7 linked regions of the Homo sapiens genome follow. The protein of the gene in region 1 purifies or fractionates together with the protein of each later gene. This does not show direct contact. Each region holds a gene or a part of one and is shown in the gene's direction. Other genes may lie near its edges.

The links.
Region 2: the proteins of B3GAT2 (region 1) and DNAJC11 purify together in Homo sapiens (affinity purification with mass spectrometry; one large-scale study listed by BioGRID and IntAct). This does not show direct contact.
Region 3: the proteins of B3GAT2 (region 1) and ITGA7 purify together in Homo sapiens (affinity purification with mass spectrometry; one large-scale study listed by BioGRID and IntAct). This does not show direct contact.
Region 4: the proteins of B3GAT2 (region 1) and RMND1 purify together in Homo sapiens (affinity purification with mass spectrometry; one large-scale study listed by BioGRID and IntAct). This does not show direct contact.
Region 5: the proteins of B3GAT2 (region 1) and LRP6 purify together in Homo sapiens (affinity purification with mass spectrometry; one large-scale study listed by BioGRID and IntAct). This does not show direct contact.
Region 6: the proteins of B3GAT2 (region 1) and ABHD12 purify together in Homo sapiens (affinity purification with mass spectrometry; one large-scale study listed by BioGRID and IntAct). This does not show direct contact.
Region 7: the proteins of B3GAT2 (region 1) and FRAS1 purify together in Homo sapiens (affinity purification with mass spectrometry; one large-scale study listed by BioGRID and IntAct). This does not show direct contact.

Annotation. Positions count from the first base shown.
Region 1 is NC_000006.12:70,950,561-70,954,060, reverse strand, and holds part of B3GAT2 (galactosylgalactosylxylosylprotein 3-beta-glucuronosyltransferase 2 precursor), read left to right. Parts: intron 1-3,500. UniProt on the Homo sapiens protein: Involved in the biosynthesis of L2/HNK-1 carbohydrate epitope on both glycolipids and glycoproteins.
Region 2 is NC_000001.11:6,653,317-6,656,816, reverse strand, and holds part of DNAJC11 (dnaJ homolog subfamily C member 11), read left to right. Parts: intron 1-2,777; coding exon 2,778-2,906; intron 2,907-3,500.
Region 3 is NC_000012.12:55,701,405-55,704,904, reverse strand, and holds part of ITGA7 (integrin alpha-7 isoform 2 precursor), read left to right. Parts: intron 1-1,726; coding exon 1,727-1,854; intron 1,855-1,953; coding exon 1,954-2,033; intron 2,034-3,484; exon of another isoform or gene 3,485-3,488; coding exon of another isoform or gene 3,489-3,500. UniProt on the Homo sapiens protein: Integrin alpha-7/beta-1 is the primary laminin receptor on skeletal myoblasts and adult myofibers.
Region 4 is NC_000006.12:151,414,127-151,417,626, reverse strand, and holds part of RMND1 (required for meiotic nuclear division protein 1 homolog), read left to right. Parts: intron 1-227; coding exon 228-348; intron 349-355; exon of another isoform or gene 356-546; intron 547-2,078; exon of another isoform or gene 2,079-2,209; intron 2,210-3,500. UniProt on the Homo sapiens protein: Required for mitochondrial translation, possibly by coordinating the assembly or maintenance of the mitochondrial ribosome.
Region 5 is NC_000012.12:12,162,545-12,166,044, reverse strand, and holds part of LRP6 (low-density lipoprotein receptor-related protein 6 isoform b precursor), read left to right. Parts: intron 1-749; coding exon 750-966; intron 967-1,482; coding exon 1,483-1,772; intron 1,773-3,500. UniProt on the Homo sapiens protein: Component of the Wnt-Fzd-LRP5-LRP6 complex that triggers beta-catenin signaling through inducing aggregation of receptor-ligand complexes into ribosome-sized signalosomes.
Region 6 is NC_000020.11:25,299,714-25,303,835, reverse strand, and holds the end of ABHD12 (lysophosphatidylserine lipase ABHD12), read left to right. Parts: intron 1-207; coding exon 208-286; coding exon of another isoform or gene 287-538; exon of another isoform or gene 539-1,489; coding exon 1,490-1,617; intron 1,618-2,457; coding exon of another isoform or gene 2,458-2,479; exon of another isoform or gene 2,480-2,504; intron 2,505-2,951; coding exon 2,952-2,991; 3' UTR 2,992-3,622; downstream 3,623-4,122.
Region 7 is NC_000004.12:78,448,823-78,452,322, forward strand, and holds part of FRAS1 (extracellular matrix organizing protein FRAS1 isoform 1 precursor), read left to right. Parts: intron 1-1,328; coding exon 1,329-1,517; intron 1,518-2,949; coding exon 2,950-3,069; intron 3,070-3,352; coding exon 3,353-3,500. UniProt on the Homo sapiens protein: Involved in extracellular matrix organization. Required for the regulation of epidermal-basement membrane adhesion responsible for proper organogenesis during embryonic development. Involved in brain organization and function.

The DNA of each region.
Region 1 (3,500 bases):
CTGTAGGAGGCTAGATTGTGAAGGAGGAATGATTTAGTTTATTCCGAGCTTCTAGCCTCTTGGTGTGAGGTGTTAGAAGAATTGGCACACGCAGGCAGTGAAATGATTCAGGACACAGCCTTCCTTTGATGCTTCCCAAACTGAAAGGAGGGTTTGTTGGTGGGGGATATTAAGCATCAGGAGAAAATTCCAGTAGGTTTTTCATTAGTCCATATGGGGGAAAATATAAAATGAGGAGAGGGTAAGGAGAAAAAAATAGTGTTGTCAGAGAGGACATTATAAAGGAAAAACGCAAAACTTTCAAGACACTAAACTTTTGTACAATTGGAAGTAATGCAATAAAATAAAATAAGAGCATATGCAACATTTTTTAATGGTGAGGTGCCACATATACAAAAAATACAACAGGTTTATTGTTTCTGTTGTCATTTTAAGCATAATAGGCATGACATACTTAGAATTTAAGTTTTCTATCTCCTGGAGGTCACTCCCAGACAGTAATTTTATGACTAGTACCTTTCTCTACCACTCCCCCACCAGCATTGTTTTTGGACAGATTAGGCCTTTGTTTGACATATATGTATGCTGATACATTCAGTTTTCTTTATTATAACATTTTCCATGCATGGCAAACATTATTGAATTCCATCATTAGGCTAGTGGAATTTATGAATTCTTAGTCTTGTGCATTTTCCAGAATTTGGAAATCCGTAGGTTTATTTGTGAGACAGCCTACCATACACCCGTTCTCAGATTAATGATTCCGTGTAAATTATAGTTTAGACATTGTTCTCTGGAGAAAACGTAGGACCAGATAAAACATTGAAAATCTACAGCTCCTTGGGGGAAAGCAAAGATGCTGATTAGGAATGCTATAGGGCTGAGGCATATATCTCAGCCCTTTATATTGTGCATGCACACCAATTAGTTTTTCAGTAATTCACAGTACTTAAGGAAAGAATACCCCAAGTCAGGTTTCATCTTTTATTCATGGTGCTTCTAATTTCCATGGTTGATGTTAAAGTGGATAAGATAAAAGGAGGAAAATGAACCACGTACAAATTAGCTCCGTAAGTATTGGCTGCAAATGAAGGAAAGCAAAGGATGAAAGGTCTCCAAATTAAATTAAAGACGCAACAGGCAATCTGTGTTCAATTATTCCTCCCTGGTAACTGGAATGGTGCTTTGTCATCTCATACAGCTAACTAATTTTCAGCCTTTCCTTTCAACTGATCTGCATTGCCAGGAAAGAAATATTTGCATTGAATACTCTTATGTTAACAGCCAAATCCATTTGCAAATGAAGTTTAGTGTGAATCTTAGCTACAGAAATGGGCCTGTTCATTGGAGAAGGAGGTGGTGGGGTTTTTCAGGTTTCAAAAATCTCAACAGCTACTCCTCTTCTTCCTGTGGCATTGATGGGGTTTTGCACTGTGGATCACAGGTAATCCTGCCTCCCTGTGCATCCTATCCATCTCCCTCTCTGGAAAAGCTTACTTGCAAAGGATTTAAGCTGCTTTAATAAAAGCCACAACTACAGATAAATGTGACTTTATTTTTAGTCATGTTTTCAATAACACTATTGATCAGATTTCTGTTTTTCACCAGAAAACCTTCAAAGCTTTCTTAAATTTAAAACAGATGCTTTTCAGGTGAAGTTGGTTTCACCTCTGGAAATCAATTGAATTGAAATACTAAAAAAAAATAGCACTTTCCAAGCAAGAAAAAAAAAAACTTTAGAAATTTTGAAGTTAATGAAATAAGACTGGAAGACAGGCTGGCTCTCAGACACTTAAGGGGTTATCAAAGGAGTCAGTGACTGAGATTGCATCTAGAAGATGTTTCTGGAAAGCAATGAACTAAAGAAGCCCCTTGCTTGAATCTTTTGTTGGGTGCTATTCAGCTATTTGTGTACTAGGCAGATAAAGGAGTTTTGAGGATTAATTCTGTCTTGCTTTTTTTTCAGAAGTATTTGTGTGCTTTCCCTCTTTACCTGCTGCTTATTGGAGTCATAATCTGAAGGATATACGAGTTTACAATGTTTGGCCCTTTCCCCCCTAAATAGTACTTCTATTTATGTTTCCTGAAAGGAAACATGAGATTTACCTTTTACCCTTGGTACATTTACTTTATTTAGGGTAATTCTTTTTAAAGTGAAGGAACCTAGAAGATTTTCTTGGGTGGAACATTAAAAGACCATTTTACCTGAAATGTGCCCCTTGTATTTTATTTCTTTCCCTCTGAAAGCTATTAAGAGTCATGCCATAGGTCTGATAAAATGTGAGAATTTTATAGAAATGTATATATGAAACTACAGCCAATTTTCTTAGGCTATAAATGTTAGGTTTTCTTTATTCTCCCTGGGTGTACAGTATTTGAATTATGGTTCGTTTTTGATAAGAGTTTTCTTTGGAGACCAGTAGTTTTCATTTGGATGTTGATATTTTAATGGACCAGAAATAACAATTTGGGCCTAAAGATGTTCTCCCTTCTGCCTCTTCCTATTGTCTTTTTCCATCATTCTTCCTCTCTCAACCTACTTTTCACTGATGATTCTGTCTCGTGAATAGACATGAAAACATGTTCGGATTATTGCTTGGTGCAATGAATGTTGTATCTTTTAAACATTTAGGCTGTTGCTGCTTCTTGGAAACCATTGTGGGTGGCTCCCTTTTTTCTGTCTACTCTGCTTGCCTCTAAATTACAAGCTGGTAAATTTTCTCTTGTGTGAACAGTAATGGAATAGTAATTGCTTTTAAGGCATGCTGCAAAAGCAAAATAGAAAATCCAAAGTCAATGGTCTTATTTATTAACTATTTCAGGTGGTATTCAAGTAGTGGTAGGTTTTTTGTTGTCGTCATTGTTTTTTGCACAGAATTCAATATTGTACAGATATGTCTATTTAAATGTTTTGGACTCTGGAATATTCAGCCTGTGTAAGTTAACACATATATATTTGATTCACAGTGCTTGTGAAGCATGAAATTTAAGTTTTGCATGGAGCTCAAATTCTCCCACCAAAATACAAATAAAATTGTTATACCAGTACATAGATAGATGCATAGGTAGGTTTAGAATACATCTCCAAAGCACAGAAATAAAACTAAGATAATTTGTTGTTCATGCCTGGTAATTTTTGCATACAATTTTAAATAAATGTTAATACCCTATATCATGGATACAAGCAAAATATAGTTGACATAAATTGAGCATTTACTATAGGCAAAGAAGTACCCTTAGGGTTTTACGTGTATTATTTAATCTTCATAACACCCTGAGGTAGGTAATAGTACTGTCTCTGTTTGTTTGCTGTTTTAATACTAATGCTAATATTTAGTTATGGACGCAGTCCCTTGGTGAGTACAGAGGACTTAAACAAATGCAACCTGACGGTAATATAGTTGTTTACCTCTGATCTATATAATCAGTATCCCCGTTTTTAACAGAAGCACTAGGAAGTAACTTGAAAATGTCATGTAGCTGTTATGTGGCAGAGATAG
Region 2 (3,500 bases), on another chromosome or scaffold:
CCAGTGGAATCCTCCCAGTCTCCTAGGTGACTGGGACCACAGGCGGATACCACCACTCCCAGCTAAACTTTTTTTTTTTTTTTTTGGTTTTAGTTTTTTTTGTGGAGACAGAGTCTCAACATGTTGCCTAGGCTGGTCTCGAACTCCTGGGCTCAAGCAATCCCTCCACCTCAGCCTCCCAAAGTACTGGGATTGCAGGAGTGAGCCACAGCACTCAGCTGAAATTTTTGACACATTTAATTGATTCATCTCTGTATATCATATTTTTAATTTAGAAAATATTCTCTCAATTCTAAATTTCTTCATATTAGAACATAAAAATATCTTGGCCCAAGTATTTTGACAGGTATTGTCTTTTTAACTTTATTCACAACAGTTTTCTTTGACACATTTTTCTAAATCATCTTTATTTATGATCTTTTGAATGTTTTATCAAATTTAGATGCTATAAAACTGTAGACCTTTTCAATTCCATTTCATTCTTGAACAGAATATAAATTTACCTAATTAAACATGACAGCTCCACCAAGATTCCTACACAAAATAAAGATACTCCAAAATGCCGTTATGGAATTTCAAAATTGTATCTCATTATATCTCATAAACTCTTATTTATTTTGTATGGTTTTTTTCCCCCTAAAAAGATCAGCTTCAGATTATTTTTCATTACAAGCTTTATTTTCAGTGATTGTAATTTTTTTTTTTTTTTTTTTTTTAGACGGAGTCTTGTTCTGTTGCCCAGGCTGGAGTGCAGTGGCACAATCTTGGCTCACTGCAACCTCTGCCTCACAAGTTGAAGCAATTCTCCTGCCTCAGCCTCCTGAGGAGCTGGGATTATAGGTGCGCACCACCACGCCCGGCTAATTTTTGTATTTTTAGTAGAGATGGGGTTTCACCATGTTGGTCATGTTGGTCTCAAACTCCTGACTTCGTGAGCCGCCTGCCTCGGCCTCCCAAAGTGCTGGGATTACAGGCATGAGCCACCACACCCGGCCTGTTCTTGTTTTTGAGACAGAGTCTTGCTCTGTCACCCATGCTGGAGTGCAGTGGCGCAATCTTGGCTCACTGAAACCTCCACCTTTCAGGTTCAAGCAGTTCTCCTGCCTCAGCCTCTAGAGTAGCTGGGACGTGTACCTGGCTAATTTTTGTATTTTTAGTAGCAACAGGGTTTCTACCACGTTGGCCAGGCTGGTCTCGAACTCCTGACCTCAGGTGATCCCACTCCCTCAGCCTCCCAAAGTGTTGGGATTACGGGTATTAGCCACCACACCTGGCCACAGATTGTTCATATACTGCCATGCAGTTTTGTTGATTATTCAGAATCATCATCATGACAGAGATGTGTTCATGCTGTTACTCTGTGAATATAAAAAATTTGTAAATTTTGGCAACTACAACTTCATTTTCCATGGGTAGAATACCACAGCTTGTTTTGACACAATTATGCATTATGCGTATCACTACAACTAATTCTAAGGATGTTTCTAGTCCATGGGTTTCTTGATTTAATAAGAAAATTTTTTACCATAACACTATACTGCCTCCAAGTTGGTATTTGAATATCACCGCAAAAACAAACACGTTTACCTTTAATGTGGAACTTTTTGATTGAGTTTATAGTAGCATTCATAATGTCAGGTGTTTCACCCTCAACAGAAATCAAGTAATTATTAGGGTTAATGCATTTTCAGATTGAAGCATCTGATAGAAAGCTAGCACCAGCTGGGCGCGGTGGCTCACACCTGTAATCTCAGCACTTTGGGAGGCCGAGGCGAGTGGATCATGAGGTCAAGAGATCGAGACCATCCTGGTCAACATGGTGAAACCCTGTCTCTACTAAAAATACAAAAATTAACTGGGCATGGTGGCGTGCGCCTGTAGTCCCAGCTACTCGGGAGACTAAGGCAGGAGAATCGCTTGAACCCAGGAGGCGGAGGTTGCAGTGAGCCAAGATCGTGCCACTGCACTGCACTGGACTAATGGCTAATGTTGCCTGGTGACAGAGCGAGACTCCATCTCAAAAAAAAAAAAAAAAGAAAAGCTAGCAAAAAAACATTGTTTCAATGGGCTGCAAAAAGTTTAGTTAAAAAAATGTGTGTGGCCATGGTTTTATATACTGGATTAAGATAATGTCCGTTTTTAAAGTTGTGACTATCAAAGAATAATAAACATTGATTTTCTGAGTAACAAGCATTTTTATCAGCAAAATTTTAGCTTAGAATTCCTTGAGCAAATACAGTGTTCTGTTTCTCAAACTTAATTCTCATTAATTTGAGAAGGTGGATTAATTTTAAAGTCTCCCATTTGTTCATAATTTGTGCTGCTTTATCTTTGAAGGTATTTTTATTTAAAGAGTTTTAGGGTAGTTTTGTGGTATAAGGTTGTTTACCAAAAAATGTTTAATCCATGTAGCTCATTTCTAGGTGGTTTTGTGCATTCTTGGGTCCTGTTTGGTCTCTGAAAATCAAACTGTCTAGCTCTTACTCCTTTGACTAACACTTTTGTCTTTGGCGTGTCATTGCTCTGCAGACATGCGGACCGGCTCTCCTGGTCAAATGATGTTTTCTAGCTCTGGACGTCTGTGGTGCTCTGCAGTTTGGTTCGGACTGTGACATTCATGCTTTGTGGGCTTCCTGGTGGAGTGTCCTACCTAAACCCAGTGAACCCTGAAGTCAAATGACTTGTTCAATTAAAGCGAGCTGGCTGTTGAAGTGTAGCATTGTCTTTCATTCCACAAATACCACCCGTTCTGCTGACGGCTTGTTTTTCTGCCCCAGGGAACGATCAGCGTTGGAGTAGATGCCACCGACCTTTTTGATCGCTATGATGAGGAGTATGAAGATGTGTCCGGCAGTAGCTTTCCGCAGATTGAAATTAATAAAATGCACATATCCCAGTCCATTGAGGTAAAGCACACAACCACCTCTCCGAGTACAGCAAGGGCTCGAGTTAATGAGGCACAGCACACCAAGCAGCTGGAATGAGAGTCTGCCCAGGGTTTTTCTCATCTTTATTTATGAAAGGATGCAATTAGCCACTTAAAAAAGAAAGCGCTTCATTCCCAGCCGTGTGTTACCGCTGTGCTGGCATGTGAGCCAGCAGGAGTGTGGGCTGGGGCACTTGGCTCCCAAGGTCTTGGGCCTTTCCAGCAGAGGGTGTTAATGGTCTGGGAGAAGTAGAGGCCCAAGGTCATGGGGTTCTGGGAGAGAAAGCAGACCTCCATGGATCATTCTAACAACCAGTTTTAGTTTTAAGGCAAATTCTGCTAGGTGCCGCAAGGCTATAGCAGCTCTCATCCTGAGCCCTGGGCACGCGAAAATGTCACCATTCTGCCCACTATTTGGATGTGACGAGGTCAGGTCATTCTCCTGAGCGTTTATAGTAGGTCTTTGTCTCCTCAGCTCATTAATTTATTCTCCATTGCATCAGCCAACAACGTGGAGTCCTAACTTGGGGAAATTTGCCCCCTCTTGGAGCTCCCTGAGTCAGTTGATACAGAA
Region 3 (3,500 bases), on another chromosome or scaffold:
ACTTGCCTGAAGGTTGCCATTTATTTATGCAGGGCTGTATCACCCCGTTTCCTTTTCTGCCCAGGGTACCCTCATCTCCCCACTCTCTCCTTCCCTTTCTGGGGTGGTCTCAGTGTTCTAGAGACAGGTCAGTCACTGGGTGGAGTGACAAAGTGTTGGAGTTAGGCCCATGTGGATTTGAATTCCAGCATCACTGCTTAATGTCTTTGAGTGAGTTTTCTCATCTGAAAGACAAGAAAAGAATCCTTATCTCATAGGATTGTTCTGATGATTAAATGACATAATGCATGTGACTTGCCTATCCTGGTGCTTGGCACATATGTGGACAGTGATGAATGTTAGTTTCTTATATCCCTGGTGTCTAGCCTCGGATCTGACGTCATAGTAGGTGCTGAATAAATATGATTTCCTTGTCTCACCAGCGCCTGACACAGGGCTTGGCATACAATAGACTCTCAATAAGTAGTTGAATGCCAAATGTGTCTTCTCTTCTCTACTACTCCCTATACCCCTTCTCTGTCTTGACACTGGCTCTGACAAGGGATGGCAGCTGCTAAGAGATGAGGAGGAGTTGTGGGAAGGAAGAATGGCTCTCTGCCCTCCCCCTCCACCCCATCAGAGCTGGCACAGTGCCCCACAGATGCCTGTCTGTAATACTGCCTAACATGGTTTTGGGCCTTGCCCCCCAGGAAGGGAGATGGAGGAGAAGAGTGTGGGAGAGAGGCGTTGAGGTTTGTCCCACTGCCACTTCTGAGTCTCTCCTTCTGCAAAGAGAGGACCCATGGAGCCAGCTGGGTGTCAGTCATCTTACCTCACCCCCGCCTTCACTCTGGCTTGGGGGTTCAGCCCCAGGGGACCCAGGCAGCCTCCATTCCCAGCACTGTGCTCCCCTGGGGAAGACGGCTTGGCTGTGATCATGGAAAATTGTCCTGCCAAGAAAGTTGTAGCTGGGAAAGAGGCTGAGGGGGAGGCAGGAGAGAAGACTGGGTGGGGGTGGAAGGGAAGGAGAAATCATGGACATGGGGAGAAGGAAGGATGGGGAAGGGGATTCAGGATGTCGGGAAGAGAATGGGGTAGCATTGGAGGCAGAAGGAGAAACTTGTCCCTACCTCCATGCCAGCCAGAGTGACTGATGGAATCCTGGGCTGGCACAGCTTCTGGGAGGTGGGGTCTTTGCTGGGTCCCTGATGAGGGGGCAGTGGGTCCGTATCTAGCCTCTTGCCTGGCCTCTGAAGCTGGTCCCTGAGCCACACTCTGATGCCAGTCTGGGGCCCTGTTACTTTTGCTCCCAGCATTCTTGGCATTTCTGGCTGGGTTTCAACTGGACTGGGTTGGGGAGCAGGGCAGAGCTTGGGGATGGGGCCAAGGAGGGGATAGGGAAGGCCTACTCAGGAACAGGTGCTGGGAACAGGCAGTTCTTTCAAACCAGCACTGTTGGCCTGGCTGCTTGGGTTGGCGTGTATGTGTGTGTGTGTGTGTGTGTGTGTATCTACTGTGTATGTTGATCCCTTATCCAGATAGTATGTACATGCAACGTGATGACTGCATGACCAAGCATATTAATTTGTCCTTGCCAGGGTTTGAGAAAACTGACATTTGCCCCTTCTCTTTAGTCCTTGAACACTCTCTTTAGTACTGAGGGGTTGGGCCTGGGCAGCTCTAATGAGATTGGGTCATTCTGACCTCTAACTCCTGTCCCTGTCCCTGCCCCTGCCCCATCTTGCAGGCTGCTGGTGGGTGCTCCCCAGGCCCTGGCTCTTCCTGGGCAGCAGGCGAATCGCACTGGAGGCCTCTTCGCTTGCCCGTTGAGCCTGGAGGAGACTGACTGCTACAGAGTGGACATCGACCAGGGAGGTGTGGCCCTGCATGAACAGAGTGGGGGAAGCGTGTGAGCGGGGAGGAGAGGACTTGGGCTCCTCTTCCCTCCCCTAATTCCCAGTGTCCTGCCTCTAGCTGATATGCAAAAGGAAAGCAAGGAGAACCAGTGGTTGGGAGTCAGTGTTCGGAGCCAGGGGCCTGGGGGCAAGATTGTTGTGAGTATTGCTTCTCATGACTGAATGCACGGATGGGGTGTGTGTGTGTGTGTGTTTATGGTGTGTGCATACGCATAGGTGTGCTTAGAGAACACAAGTTAGGAATATGGTATGATTCCAAGTACATCAGGGAGATATAAAAAGGTGTGAGACATGGTCCTTGTCCTTATAAATGTAAAAATGTCTGTCCATTCATTCATCCATCCATTTGTCAAACTCTTACTGAGAACCTTTTAAGCATCAGGCATTGTGCTAGTTACTACAGGGGAAGGCTCATGCCTGTAATCCCAGCACTTTCGGAGGCCGAGGCAGGTGGATCACCTGAGGTCAGGAGTTCGAGACCAGCCGGACCAACATGGCGAAACCCTGTCTCTCCTAAAAATACAAAAAAATTAGCCGGGCGTGGCCGGGTGCGGTGGCTCACGCTTGTAATCCCAGCACTTTGGGAGGCCGAGGTGGGTGGATCACGAGGTAAGGAGATCGAGACCATGGTGAAACCCCGTCTCTACTAAAAACACAAAAAATTAGCCGGGCGTGGTGGCGGGCGCCTGTAGTCCCAGCTACTCAGAGAGGCTGAGGCAGGAGAATGGCGTGAACCGGAGAGGCGGAGCTTGCAGTGAGCTGAGATCGCGCCACTGCGCTCCAGCCTGGGTGACAGAGCGAGACTCCGTCTCAAAAAAAAAAAAAAATTAGCTAGGTGTGGTGGCAGGCGCCTGTAATCCCAGGTACTCGGGAGGCTGAGGTAGGAGAATCACTTGAACCTGGGTGGAGGAGGTTGCAGTGAGCTGAGATCGCACCATTGTACCCTAGCCTGGGAGACAAGAGCAAAGTTCCGTCTCAAAACCAACCAAACAAACAAACGAAAAAACCAGAGCTCTCTGTTTCTCTCTCTCTCTCTATCTTTCAGTAACACGCATAGATACACAATTACCAATACAGATCACTGTGGGGCAGAATCTGGTTCATGTTAAGTGAGTGGTCTAGTCTCCAGTCTATAAAAGTCCAAAGGAGGAGTAGAGAGAAGACTTCTGCAGAGGGGATGATTTGAGCCAGGCTTTAATAATAGGTAATACCTAGCCTGTGCAACATAGTGGGACCTCATCTTTATAAAAAATAAAAACAAATTAGCCAGTCATGGTGGTGCATGCCTGTAGTCCCAGCTACACAGGAGGCTGAGGTGGGAGGATCACTTGAGCCCTGGAGGTCGAGGCTGCAGTGAGCCATGATTGTGCCACTGCACTCCAGCCTGGGTGACAGAGTGAGACCTTGCTTCAAAAAAAAAAAAAAAGTAATACTTGGAGAGTGAAGCGGACAGGAAGTTCTTTGCAGATGAGATGGTGACACTTACAAAGGTCCAGGGACAGGGCCAAGCTTGGCATTTTGGAGGACTGTGACATGATCAGGGAGACACACATCCTATGTGGTGGCTTAATTGTGTCTTTTGGCTCCAGGCAGAATGTGGAACAA
Region 4 (3,500 bases), about 80 Mb from region 1:
TCCAGCTACATGGGAGGCTGAGGCAGGAGAACAGCTTGAGCCCAGGAGTTCAGTTTGCAGTGAGTTGTGATCACACCACTGCACTCCATCCCGGGTAACATAGCAAGACCCTCTCTCTTACCAAAAAAAAAAAAGTTTTCATAAAGCACTATGTAAATATTAAATACAATAGAAACAATGATTTTTAATTCAAGATAAATAAAAAGTTATAATTTTCCTTTTTAAAGGCACCGTATAAACTTGAGTTCAGACTTCCTGATTACTCCTGATTTCTACTGGGACAGAGAAAACCTGGAAGGACTTTACGATAAAACGTGTCAATTCCTTAGCATTGGCCGAAGAGTTAAGGTACGTATTTTGCACTTCTAATGAGAGAAAAAGACACGTTGTCGCCTATAAGTTGAATATGTTTAACTGCTTGCAGAGAAATATCTTGTTTGACTTCCATTCAAATCTCTTTATATTTCCCCTTCTTGTCCTCTGTACAGTCACTTCAATTTTTTGTGTCAAAGGATCTTCTGATATTAGCTCTACAGACTAGATAAGGTTGGTGAATAAGATGAGAGTTTGGAAGCCTAATGGTCCATCAGTAAGTTCTTGTCAAGTTTCAAGCAAGAGTTCATGACTGCTTCTGATCTGTCATGGTGACAGTGAGAATAGAAATAAATTTAAGAAAGAATCATGTAAGACAAATCAAGTGATGGGTAATAAGAGGCCATGGAGAAGAAAGAATAAAGGATGACTGATGTTTGCCTGGAGGTGACAAGTAGAAAGGTGGAAAAACAATAATGAGAGGTCAGAGAGGGGAGGTGACAGACTAAATCTAAGATATGCTGAGATTAGAGTAGCAACAAGATATCCAATTAGCTCCGTCATGCAGGCATTTAGAAGGGCAGAAGCAAAGTCGGGAAAAGAGACGTGTATTAAGAAATCCCAGCACTTTGGGAGGCTGAGGCGGATGGATCACCTGAGGTTGGGAGTTTGAGACCAGCCTGGCCAACATGGCGAAACCCTGTCTCTACTAAAAATACAAAAATTAGCCAGGCATGGTGGCATTCTCCTATAGTCCGAGCTACTCGAGAGGCTGAGGCAGGAGAATCACTTGAACCCAGGAGGTGGAGGTTGCAGTGAGCCAAGGTCGAGCCAGTGCACTCCAGCCTGGATGACAGAGTGAGACTCCGTCTCAAAAAAAAAAAAAAAAAAAAAGCTGTAGTGATGGAGGTAGACCACATGGGGAAAGAGCATAGAAAACAGAAAATTGACATTAGTACAATGTGTGCACATAGTTCTGTGACATTTTGCCACATCTATAGATCCATGCAACCACATGATCAAGACACAAAACTGTGCCAGGTGCGGTGGCTCATGCCTGTAACCCCAGCACTTTGTGAGGCTAGAGGTGGGCAGATCACTTGAGGTCAAGAGTTCGAGACCTGCCTGGCCAATATGGTAAAACGCTGTCTCTACTAAAAATACAAAAATTAGCTGGGTGTGGTGGCGCGTGCCTGTAGTCCCAGCTACTCGGGAGGCTGAGGCAGCAGAATCGCTTGAACCCAGGAAGTGGAGGTTGCAGTGAGCTGAGGTCATGCCATTGCACTCCAGCCTGGGCGTTGCAGCGAGACTCCATCTCAAAAAAAACAAAACAAAAAGACACAAAACTGTTTTATCACTTTTCCTCATGCTACCCTGTATAGTCACACTGCCCTCCCCCTACCCGGACTGTCCCTAACCCCTGGCAGTGAGTAATCTCTTCTCCATCTCCATAATTTTGTCATTTTGAGGATGTTATATAGATAGTCATACAGTATGTGACTTTTTTTTTTTTTTTTTTTTTGAGACGGAGTCTTGCTCTGTTGCCCAGGCTGGAGTGCAGTGGCTCAATCTTGGCTCATTGCAAGCTCTGCCTCCCGGGTTCACGCCATTCTCCTGCCTCAGCCTCCTGAGTAGGTGGGACTACAGGCACCCGCCACCAAGCCCAGCTAATTTTTTTTTGTATTTTTAGTAGAGATGGGGTTTCACTGTGTTTAGCCAGGATGGTCTCGATCTGTATGTGACTTTTTAACTGGCTTTTTTCACAGAGCATAATGCCCTCAACTTGGATCCATCCAAATTGTTGCTTGTATCAAAGTTCCTGTCTTCCTGTGGTTACTGAAACAATTTTTTGGTATTTCATTTTGATGTTACTTTTTAATATATCTCGTTGCATAGATATTTAGTAGTTGCTCTGGTTATTACATCTTACGTATATAACTTATTACAATCTACTGATTTCAACATCTTGCAGATTAAATGAAGTATAGAATCTTTATTTCCCTAATGGATGATTGGATGCAGAAAAAAAAAAAGAATTCTTATTTCTTTTATATTCCTTTACCCTTCCGTATTTATAATTTTCTTAACTATTCTTCTGCAGACATAGAAAACTTCATCAGATAATGTTATAATTTTTGCTTCAACCATCAAACATAATTTAGAAAACTAAGAAAAGCAAAGTCTGTTGTATGTGCCCATGTTTTTATTCTTTCTGTTCTTTTCTCCTTCTGATCTTCTAAGATTTCTTTTACTGTTTTTTTTTTTCAAGAACTTTATTTAGCCATTCTTTTAAGGTAAGTCTAGTGAGACAAATTCTCTTAGTTTGTCTTCATCTGAGAGTGTATTAATTTTCTCTTCATTCTTGCAGGATATTTTCCTAGAAATAGGATTCTAGGTAGACAGTTTTCTTTCTTTCAGCACCTGAAAAATGCCATGCCACTTCCTTCTGACCTCCATGGTTTCTGACGGAAATCTGCCATAATTCTATGACATCTACATTTTATCTTTTATTATCATTTCACAAGGTCTTTGAGGCTCTGTTCACTTCTTTTCCAGTATATTTTGTCTCTGTTAAGATTGGGTAATGTCCTTTGTTTCATCTTCTAGTTGATTGATTCCTTCCTCTGTTACATTCGTTCTGCTGCCCAACATTGAGTTTATTTCATTTATTATATTTTTCAGTTCTAAAATTTCCATGTTTTTTTATTTGTATCTTCTGTTTCTTTGCAGAGACTTCCTGCTTTTTCGTTTGTTTCAAATGTGTTCAGAATTGCTTGTTGAATCATTTTTATGATGGTTGCTCTAACATCATCTAATAATACCTAACCTCAGATACCTCTTGATATTAGTGTCTACTGATTGTCTTTTCTGATTCCCTCCAACTAATTTTAATACCTCCAGTTTCCCTCATTGCCTCAAGTGTTCTGGCTTGATATACAAGGTCCTTCCTATTGTTTCTGTTTTTCAATCATATTTCCTACCAATCCCCACATTCACCTTGTATCACATCAAAAATAAGTGATTAGCCTGGGAAACACAATGAGACCTCATTTCTACTAACCTTTTTTTTAAAAAAATTAGCCAGGTATAATGGCATGTGCCTGTAGTCTCAGCTACCCTGGGAGGTTGAGGCAGGAGGATTGCTTTAGCCCAGGAGTTTGAGGCTGCAGTGAGCCATGATCACGCCA
Region 5 (3,500 bases), on another chromosome or scaffold:
TCCCAAGTAAGTCAACACTGAATAGTGCATGGTGAATGCACTGTGAATACAGTATGAATGCCAGAGTGAATTTAATAATGTTACTATTAGGTAGTTGGAAAGAGAAGGTACATCCTAGTTTCTTGAAACTTAGATGCAGAGAGGGTGTCATATAATCCCGATACTTTTGTGATTATAATCTCAGAGGAATGAGAGATTTATTGAGATCCCTTTTATCTGTTTTTTGTTGTTACTGACAACAACAACAAAATAAAAAGCATGCTAAGTGGAAAAAGTCCTGAAAAAGACATCAACTGTGTTTACAAGCTCTGTGACCTTACATGAATCTCAGTTTCCATAGGCAAAGCTCTCAAGATAAAATAAAAGATGTTATAAAACAAAATATATGATAAAATAATGTATATGAAGGTACATTATAATTTGAAAACAAATGTGCAAACTTAAGGTGATGATACTGTATTTTTAATTTTGCCACAATTGTTTAATAGAAGAGTTGCATAATCTAAAGTTGCCAGAATTTTTAGAAGGAAGAGTAATATGAGATTGGGGGGAAAAGTGGTCAAATAGAGGCTTATATGGAAAATTTGAAATCATTTTTATAAAATCATCATGTAATTTTGAGAAAGCATTGTAATAGGAATACCAAGATGACTCTTGGATTTTTATACAACAGGCAGTTGGATTTGTTATTTTTAGCTGAAGAATAAATGCATAATTCATCCCCTTCTCTTTTGAATTTAAACCTGAAGGTTATGAATACTGATGGCACTGGGAGACGAGTACTAGTGGAAGACAAAATTCCTCACATATTTGGATTTACTTTGTTGGGTGACTATGTTTACTGGACTGACTGGCAGAGGCGTAGCATTGAAAGAGTTCATAAACGAAGTGCAGAGAGGGAAGTGATCATAGATCAGCTGCCTGACCTCATGGGCCTAAAGGCTACAAATGTTCATCGAGTGATTGGTGAGTAACTCCAAAGCTTTCTTAGAAATGGGAACCAGGAATGAAAAAAGATGGAGATAGTCAGCAGTGTAAATTATTGATGTTTTGAGGCAATTTTGAAACCTTCTTTACTGCCCCCCCGCCTTTTTTTTTTTTTTTTTTTTTTTTTTTTTTTTTTTTACTGAGAAGGGACCTTTTAAACGTTGACTTACTACTCTAGCTACCCAGTTTGAATTGAAGGGCTGAATACACATGCACAGGCACACCTTCATCAAAAGAATTCAGTCTGATAGTATGAATAATATACCTTACTTTAAAGCTTACTGTGGTATTAAAGGAAAATACTTCACCATGCTTTTACTCCCTATTAATCTGCATATTACTTGTTTGTGATATTAGAATTGAAACTTGAGATTGGGAGCAAGACATAATCATAGGCATTTGTGAACCAAACGCTTAAGTAATTTAAAAGTGAAAATATGTTGAATGTATCAATGTGTGTGTCCTTCTGTGCCCCTTTTATAATTAATCTTTTAGGTTCCAACCCCTGTGCTGAGGAAAACGGGGGATGTAGCCATCTCTGCCTCTATAGACCTCAGGGCCTTCGCTGTGCTTGCCCTATTGGCTTTGAACTCATCAGTGACATGAAGACCTGCATTGTCCCAGAGGCTTTCCTTTTGTTTTCACGGAGAGCAGATATCAGACGAATTTCTCTGGAAACAAACAATAATAATGTGGCTATTCCACTCACTGGTGTCAAAGAAGCTTCTGCTTTGGATTTTGATGTGACAGACAACCGAATTTATTGGACTGATATATCACTCAAGGTTAGCAAAAGAATTGGAATATTAAAGCTAGGGACTAAAAGGGAGAACTTCTAGAATTTCTGAATCTTCATGCTGTGACCCACCTCCCTCATTGTTTGACAGGCAGAGTTCAACAAAAACCCTCAAGTTTTTTTTTTTTTTTTTAAACGGTGTCTTGCTCTGTCACCCAGGCTGGAGTGCAGTGGTGCAGTCTCGGCTCACTGCAACCCCTGCCTCCCAGGTTCAAGCGATTCTCCTGCTTCAGCCTCCCGAGCAGCTAGGACTACAGGTGCGTGCCACGACGCCCAGCTAATTTTTGTATTTTTAGTAGTGACGGGGTTTCACCATGTTGGCCAGGCCGCTCGAACTCTTGACCTCGTGATCCGCCCGCTTCGTCCTCCCAAAGTGCTGGGATTACAGGCGTGAGCCACCGCGCCCAGCCAAAACCCTTAAGTTTTTAAGTGAAGGGAAAGGCCCATTCAGTATTTTATTAGATGCTTTTTAATACAGATACTTTGCCAGAGTGTTTTAAATCTGCAAGCCATAGTCTTCCTCTACTTTCTTCCATTTGAAAATGATGAATGACATTTTCTGCAATTAGCTGAGTAAGGAAATGTGTGCTTCACGTAAAATGGCTGTTGATTTACTTTAAAAAAAAATTCGTGATTTACTTTAAACAAAATTTTAGGGCCTGACTGAGGCGGAAAAGGCCAACAATGAGTTATTCTTTATTTTCTTCTTCCTAGAATAGTTACTGAAAAGAATACCAGGATAGCCAGAGAGGAAGCTCCCAACCTATAAATCTGAAGAATAATCTTTTCTTCTTCCAGATTGTTTTGGGCTTGTTTCAGATAACTCATGTAAACTTTTTTGTAATATGCGAAAACATGGGGTGTTGGAGTCAGAGTTGGATTCTAATGGTGTTCAGTTAAATTTATTAAGTGAATAAATGAAATAAATAAATTTTGGTTTGCATTGGGTGATGTTCTAAATTTCCTCATCTTGAAAATGGGGGGTGGCTGGGTGCGGTGACTCAGGCCTGTAAATCCCAGCACTTTGGGAGGCTGAGGCACATGGATCACCTGAGGTCACGAGTTTGAGAACAGCCTGGCCAACATGACAAAACCCCGTCTCTACTAAAAATACAAAAATTAGCTGGTCATGGTGGCGCATACCTGTAATCCCAGCTACTCGGGAAACTGAGGCACGAGAATCACTTGAACCTGGGAGGCAGAAGTTGCAGTGAGCCGAGATCATGCCACTGCACTCCAGCCTGGGTGACAGAGTGAGACTCTGTCTCAAAAACATAAAATAGGGGTGATGCCATACTTGCAGGACTGTTGTATTAAGTGACAAAATCTACGGACAAAACGTACTTAGGATAATACTTGATAAGATGTATCTATTATTAGTTTGAATTATGATTTTTAAAAGTGTTATGGGACTCAGTGCTATAATGGTAGTATAATGGTTACATTCATTTATATGGTAGGCATGATGACTTGCCATAATCTTAAGCACCTTTAGAAAATTGACCACTAATTAAGATCTGTAGCATTGTGGTCACAGCTTTTCCACTTGATTACTGATAAATTTTAAAAGTAAAGTCATTCTGCTGTTAGTAGAATAAATTTTTGGTGCATTAGAGTTTTAAAATTTCTCCCCTGAATTGGCAGTAAAACTTGAAGTTGCATTTATTAGAGATTGACATCAAATTTTTCTGTGCTTGCAAGTTATGTGAATTTTAAT
Region 6 (4,122 bases), on another chromosome or scaffold:
CTGTGATTGACACCTGTCATCTAGCTGTAATAGATGTTCATAGAGATAATGAAGAGTTAACTTTCAGTTGTCTAGTAAAAAGAAATCCAGCAGAAATCAGGCTGTTTCCCAAAACACACCCTGAACCCAGATCCCTGCCATGGACAGAGGGTCTGGGCAACTCTGCCCTTTCCCTGGTCTTGGTCTAGCCCCTTCTCCCTCCTACAGCGTGAAGCACATCTCCTGTCCCCTGCTCATCCTGCACGCTGAGGACGACCCGGTGGTGCCCTTCCAGCTTGGCAGAAAGGTGGGTCCTGGCCTCTGCCTCTGGTGTAGCTGGCATCTTGCACACTCAGCCAGTGTGGGTGGACCAGGCTGGGAGTGGGCAGGCGGGAAGGCAGCCCCTGCATGCTGCATCACGGGCTGCGCACCAGCCACGTCAGGCTCAGGAGGCCACCTCATCCTCCCTGCGTCACCTCCAGGCTGCTTCGGAAGGACATGGGAGGTCTGGTGTAAAGGTTGGGGCAGGGGCCCACTGATGCTGTCTCCAAGAATATGAAAAATAAGCAGATAGTTCCCAGTCCTCACACAGGGGTTATCAGAGTGGGCTGCCTATGTTATCAGAGCCCAGGCCAACCTGGGAACTCAGCTGGAAGGGCTCATCAGTTATGGGCTGAAGGCAAAGAACCCCTTGATGAGGATCTCCCAAGCCCATTGCAGGGGTCACAGTCAAAATTGATAGAGAAACTTCTAGCCTGTTTCCTTGCCTTTGGAATTGCGCTGATACCAGAACCAGACCATGCTGTCTGTGGGGCCTCAGTGTTTGCTTTTGCTGAATTTGCTTTGACTGTCAGCAAGTTGGATTGGATTTGTGGCTCAGAGTAGGGTAAGAGAAGGCAGCCTGGGTCTTGGTAATGGCAGGGCAAACTAGTTGGGTGTGTGCAGGCCTCGTCCACGGATTCAGCCCAGGGCTGGGAGCACTTCCTGCTCTGACAGCCCCCATGCAGTCAGGCTCCATAAGGCACACAGATGACGGAGCCACACAGGGCAGGGGCAGAATGCAGAGCCGCCCAGCAGCGCACAGCTCAGGCCCACCTACCCTTGCCGAAATGAGAGGGGGAGGGGGCTGAGATGGGTACATCAAGCCCATCTTAGCTAAGCCTGAGGCACATACCTTTTGTCCCAGCTCCCCAAGACTGTGCCATCCCTGCCATCAGAGCCTCCCAGGCACCTGGTCTGGCTCATCCACCTAGCCACTCCCCAGAGGAAGGGTAGTCTATAAGGTGTGAGGACAGTATCTTGAGTGGTGTGTGCCCAGGAGCCAAGCCTGGGGCCTGGCTCCTCCCAGCCCACCCCCGGGCCTCCTGGTCGTGACCGGCTGTGGCAACAAGCAGTGTATGTGGGACTCTGGACTGGTTTCTATTGAAGGGGAGGCTGCCAAGCTGGTGTTCCTCAGGCTGGGACCCCCATGCCAGGCCACTGCCTCAGGCTCTGACCCCTCTCTCCCCAGCTCTATAGCATCGCCGCACCAGCTCGAAGCTTCCGAGATTTCAAAGTTCAGTTTGTGCCCTTTCATTCAGACCTTGGCTACAGGCACAAATACATTTACAAGAGCCCTGAGCTGCCACGGATACTGAGGTGAGACATTCTCTTCCCACCCAGGGGCTTCGTCTGGGCAGCACTGGCTCACACCTAACGTGCAGCAGGTGGCAGCTGCTGAAGCTGCTCAGGGGGCCTCAGTGGGGCCAAGAGTCACAGTGATTTGGGAGCCTTCCATTTCCTTGGCAGAGGGGTTTGAGGGAGTGCCTCTCTCCTGCTCCAGGACTGTTCACATGATCATGCAGGGTGAGCCGCCTCCATGTTGTAAAGGATGTACAGACCCACACGGGGGGGCACACACGCTCACAGGTGGCCATGTTTGGGAACACTCAGACACAGACACCCCAGCCACTTGCAGGCCTCGGATCTCTTCCACACACCTCTCAAGACGTACACAGCTCCTCAAAAGCCTCTTTGTCCCCAGCTGCTTCTTGAAGGGACGTGGTGCTCCTGACTGCCCTGCACTGGCAGGACATGGGCGCCAGCCCAGAGAGCCATGAGTACCCACCTGGGCCTGAGTGCAGAGCCCAAGCCTGAGGGTGAGGCCTTGGCAGTAGTGACAAGGGCAGTGTGTGGAATGGACCAACCCCCGGCCTCCTCTGTACTGCCCTGGGCCCTATGCAGGTTGCTGCCCAGACTCGCCTACCTGCCTGTCAGAGGACACAGGCCCCCACCCCACTGCCTGGCTGTGTGGCCTTGGGCAAGATGCTAACCCTCCCTGTGCATGGGACAAGGCTTCTGAGCCGAGGAGGGCATGTGGTACTTCGACCCTAAGCACTGGACCCACGGAGGGGCTGCTGCTAATGGTGATAGAGTTTTTTGTTGTGTTGTGCCAGTCAGCTCCAAAAAGTAGGTCAAGGTGCCAGTTTCTCCCTGCAGGGGACTGAAATTGGTGGCCTGAATTGCCTCCCAGTGCTGTATATCCCGTGAGTAATTCTACTGCAAACTTCTGCTTTTCTCCAGTTGCCTTTGGAAGTTCCAGAGGCAAAACTGTGTCCCTTTAGCACAGGTACCTGGGTTGCTAAGGGGGCAGTGGGCTCAGAGTATGGGTTTGCTTTGCGGTTATAATTTTCCCCATTATAAAAGGAAGATATGTGTAGAAAATTTAGACCAGAGAATAGCTCTGAAGTTGAGGGTCAAGAATCAGAGACCTTGTCTCCATGCCTGTGTGTTGGGCTTTGACTTGGCACCACACTGCTTGTTCCCTGCCTAACTCACTGAGTGCTGCTCTGGGCTACAGCGCATCCTCATGGGGCTCTTGGCTGCCTCCTCTCTGCACAGCCTCTGCTTCCTTAGATAGCAGTGTGAGGACTGTGGAGAAGGATCTTTGGTCTGAGCTCAAATGATTGGCTCCTGATTGTCCTGTGGTCTAGGGAATTCCTGGGGAAGTCGGAGCCTGAGCACCAGCACTGAGCCTGGCCGTGGGAAGGAAGCATGAAGACCTCTGCCCTCCTCCCGTTTTCCTCCAGTCAGCAGCCCGGTATCCTGAAGCCCCGGGGGGCCGGCACCTGCAATGCTCAGGAGCCCAGCTCGCACCTGGAGAGCACCTCAGATCCCAGGCGGGGAGGCCCCTGCAGGCCTGCAGTGCCCGGAGGCCTGAGCATGGCTGTGTGGAAAGCGTGGGTGGCAGGCATGTGGCTCTCCTTGCCGCCCCTCAACCTGAGATCTTGTTGGGAGACTTAATGGCAGCAGGCAGCCATCACTGCCTGCTTGATGCTGCACTGAGCTGGACAGGGGGAGTCCGGGCAGGGGACTCTTGGGGCTCGGGACCATGCTGAGCTTTTTGGCACCACCCACAGAGAACGTGGGGTCCAGGTTCTTTCTGCACCTTCCCAGCACATGCAGAATGACTCCAGTGGTTCCATCGTCCCCTCCTGCCCTGTGTACCTGCTTGCCTTTCTCAGCTGCCCCACCTCCCCTGGGCTGGCCCACTCACCCACAGTGGAAGTGCCCGGGATCTGCACTTCCTCCCCTTTCACCTACCTGTACACCTAACCTGGCCTTAGACTGAGCTTTATTTAAGAATAAAATCGTGGTGGTGGTCCTTTTGTCTCTCTGCAGCGCGAGAAGGGTCAATGTTGCCTCCTCCATGCCCCAGAGCCGCCCACAGCCTAGCCTCTAGCCGCTTTGGAGCCACTCCATGACTCAGCCTCAGACTATGAAATTTTCTAGTCCCAGCAGCTCAGAAATTTGCCAGGAGTAGGAAGTTTTGTTCACCTGCTCGCCCCTTTCTCCAAGTTGCAGTCCCAGCATCAGCAGCTGTGGGCTGGCAGGGAGCCCAGAGGTCCTCGCGGTTACACTCCTTCACTGGGGTACCCTGAGCTACCTATAGCGGTTCTCAGATCTACAAAACACTTTTCCTACGCAGGGGAGCAGCTGAGTAGACATTACTTCTGAGGTCAGTTCATGAGAACACTGGTCCCCCTCCTGGCCAGGGTGTGCCCCAGCTCCTGGTCCCTAATTAGGGTGTCATTTCTGTTCCACCCACCCACGGCCCCAGAGACACCACCTGCCCCAGGGTTGGGATCTCCTTGCATGGCCATC
Region 7 (3,500 bases), on another chromosome or scaffold:
CTCATGTTTAAGCAACATTGGAGGACCTGTGACAAGTGTGAGTCTTGAACAGTTTGCAGTAGGAAGTTACTTAATTAAGAAGTGGACCTTTTGCCCAGGGTGTCTGCATCTTACTAGAGTTCTGTTGTTTGTTTGTTCTTAGTTTCATGTGTATTTTGCAGTGAAAAATGTATGGTATAATAGTATTGGAAAACTTGGTAGTTCTCAAAGGTCTTAAATATCAAGTCTGAGATTTGACTTTATCCTACTTATAAGCTAATAAACTATCCTGTTACTGTTTCATGGATGCTGGTAGAAGATACAAGATTCCTCCATCAGAAATACGGCACTCTTGTTACTTATAGCACAGCAGGCAGCATGGGCATCAGCAGGTTTGCATCGGCTCCCTCTGCCATCCCAGTCCCATAGGGGTGATGTAGAGGGCCCAGACAGACACTTTCGTGTGCAGTAGGATGCATCACAGAGGGGAATACTGAGCTTGGGGAATTCTCCATGTTACAGCAGCAGAATGCAAGTCTTATTTTTGTCTGAGAGGAAGACATTACCTCATCCCTCAAGGTTGCTCTCTGAGAAACGGCCTGGGTAAAGCATGGTCAGGGTCTTGTGTTCTTGGTATTACCCACTAAGAACATGTCACTCCAAACACCAGGATGTATTATGCATGAATAACTAGGCTCTACTTTACCGGGATTTACTATTTTTAACATGATAAAGCGGCTGGGTAATAAAGCAAGTGACAAGACCCTGAGAAGAGGAGTTTGCCATTAGCCAGGGCCTTATCTTCATCCCCAACACCTGCGCAGTGTCCAGGGCCCAGAGGCTCAGATCTCCTTGCTCCTAACATCCTCTGTCCTGAAGGATGCTGATTTTCACTACTTTGTCTGACATGGCAACAAGATATGTTTGAGTTTATGTAAAGCTATATTTTTCTGATTTGGTGATTCTCAAGACAGTAAGTAAACTAAATCCAAGCAGGTTTCATCATAGATCTAGGAGTTATTTTTGTCACAGAACTGGGAGTTATTCCACAGATCTAGGTATTAACTGGTAGGTCACTGAGTCGGAGGAGCATAGGAGAGAATGAAAATGGATCAGAAGGAAAAAAGTGCTTAGGTGTTGACTCAAGGGAAAATTAGTAAATTGAAATGTCGGTACTCTTTCACTAGGGAAATTATAATTTATTCAGCTGGAAACTGAGAAGGGCAAGTGCCTGGTACCTAGATCCAATGAATATGTGATAATTTAGCCTCCAGTCTCCTAAAATCATTTGACATCCCGTTCAAAGGAAATGTTGGGGAATAACCTACTCTCTTCCGTTCTCTTCCAAGGGTCTGTAGCACGCATCACAGAACAGCACTTGAAAGTGACAGATATTGACTCAGATGACCATCAGGTTATGTACATCATGAAGGAAGATCCTGGTGCAGGGCGCCTGCAGATGATGAAGCATGGCAACCTGGAGCAAATTTCTATTAAAGGCCCCATCCGAAGTTTCACCCAGGCAGACATTAGCCAAGGTCAGCCAGTTCTCTTCTGCCTACCAGGCTTCCGTGGACTGCACCTACACTAGTAAAATGAGAATTAAATATCTGGTAGTCTATGGCAATAAACTGTGCACTCTTTGTTTTGAGGAGCTTCATTTGTTCTCTTCCTTGTTTTCTTATTTTTTTTTTCTTTTTGTTTTTAAAAAAGCCCTATCTTTCTTGGTTGAAATGTGTTCATGCTTTGACTTAGCATTGGTGGCATTTGCAGCTATTTTGGAGAGAAAAAGTTATTTTGACTTGCTGTGATGCTAAAAAGTATATATGAGAGAGAGAGAAGGAAAAAAGAAGTGAGTTGGGATGGATTAAGGTGAAAATTATGCCTTCCTTAGGTGAGCAATTTATATCTCTTTTCAGCTCCCCAAAGAGCACAAGTTAATGAACTAAGCAAAATGGAAGGGCATAAATCGGAGCTGCCTAGGGGAAATTACATGGCACATCCCTCCATCAGGAAATGCTGATGTAATGTAAAGGCATAAATGTTAAATGCTACGTAGTTACTGTACAGTGCTTTCAGGGATACAAAAGGGAAAAAAAGTTATATATTGGGGAAAACGTAATCCACAGTCTTGTGATTATGTGCAATTCTGTTTAGAAGTGGAAATATACCCCTGCGGATAAAAAACAAGTGTCCCGCCCACACACTAACACCTAAAATTGACAACAGCTGAATTCTCATTGGAACTGGCTGTGCTTTAGTGAAGGGGAGTGGAAGAGGCAAAAGGAAAGTAATTCCTTAATTATTTCATATGTCGGTGTCTACTTTTAAAAGATAAGACCAGCCCCCTCTTCCCAGAGATTTGGTTATATTTACACAACCAAATTGAAAGATGCTTTTAAGTGATGCTGTAGGTTAACAAAAATGTAATACATTTTTGTTGTACTTCTCCTTTTAGATCCTTTTGAGTTCTATGTGGAGTTTATTTGTTGGTTGGCTATAGCCCATGTTGCTCCGTGAACTGGGCAATGAAAAGTGAAGAGTTCTGGGAGAATGTGAGGTGCAGCTCTGTGTCTTCTTGCCCTTGTGATTCCAATATATAATAGGGTCACTCCAGGTGATGTGGGTGTGGTCAGTGCACATTTACACATGGGCAGTTTTGTGGATCTCGTTTTCATGAGGTGTCCTTAGAGGCTGAGCTGATCTTCCAAAAAGGCTCAGCCTTAACCATGAGAAATGTCACTTGGGGTGATTTTGTTATGAGAAGGTCTTTGGTTATGAGAAAGTAGATGGTGGGAGAGGAAAAGGAGGAAATGAAAACTTTAGATTAAAATGTCAAAAGCAGTGTCAAAGCGAGGAAGGTGTGAACTGATTCATTGGTGTGAACACCAATTGAATTCACACCTCTTGCTTCAGAAATAAGGGCAGAAAGCACTAATAGCAAATCTTGATTTTTTTTCCTTTTTATAGGCCACGTAGAATATAGTCATGGAACAGGAGAACCTGGAGGGAGCTTTGCTTTTAAATTTGATGTGGTTGATGGAGAAGGCAACAGATTGATTGACAAGTCATTTTCCATCAGCATTCTAGGTAAAGAGACATTTGATTTTCTAATATAAAACTATTTTAGCAGTTCTGAGGTTATATAGTTTACACTTTGTTCACCTCGAGGCTCGAGTCCTTCCCTTTACCTAGCTGGTGTGGAAACTGAAAATCATACCCCCTTTATTGCACGAAGCCCTGGCTCCTTGGTGTGCTCTCTAACACACAGGCCTAGAGATGACTCTGACCTTACTTCTTGGCACCAGGCCTAGAATTAAAGAAAGGAGGCTGAGAAGATCCCATTTCAAATCACTATTTCTGATATTTTCAGAAGACAAATCCCCACCAGTCATCACCACCAATAAAGGACTGGTCTTGGATGAAAACTCAGTGAAGAAAATCACCACCCTGCAGCTGTCTGCCACTGACCAGGACAGTGGGCCTACAGAATTGATCTACAGAATCACCAGACAGCCCCA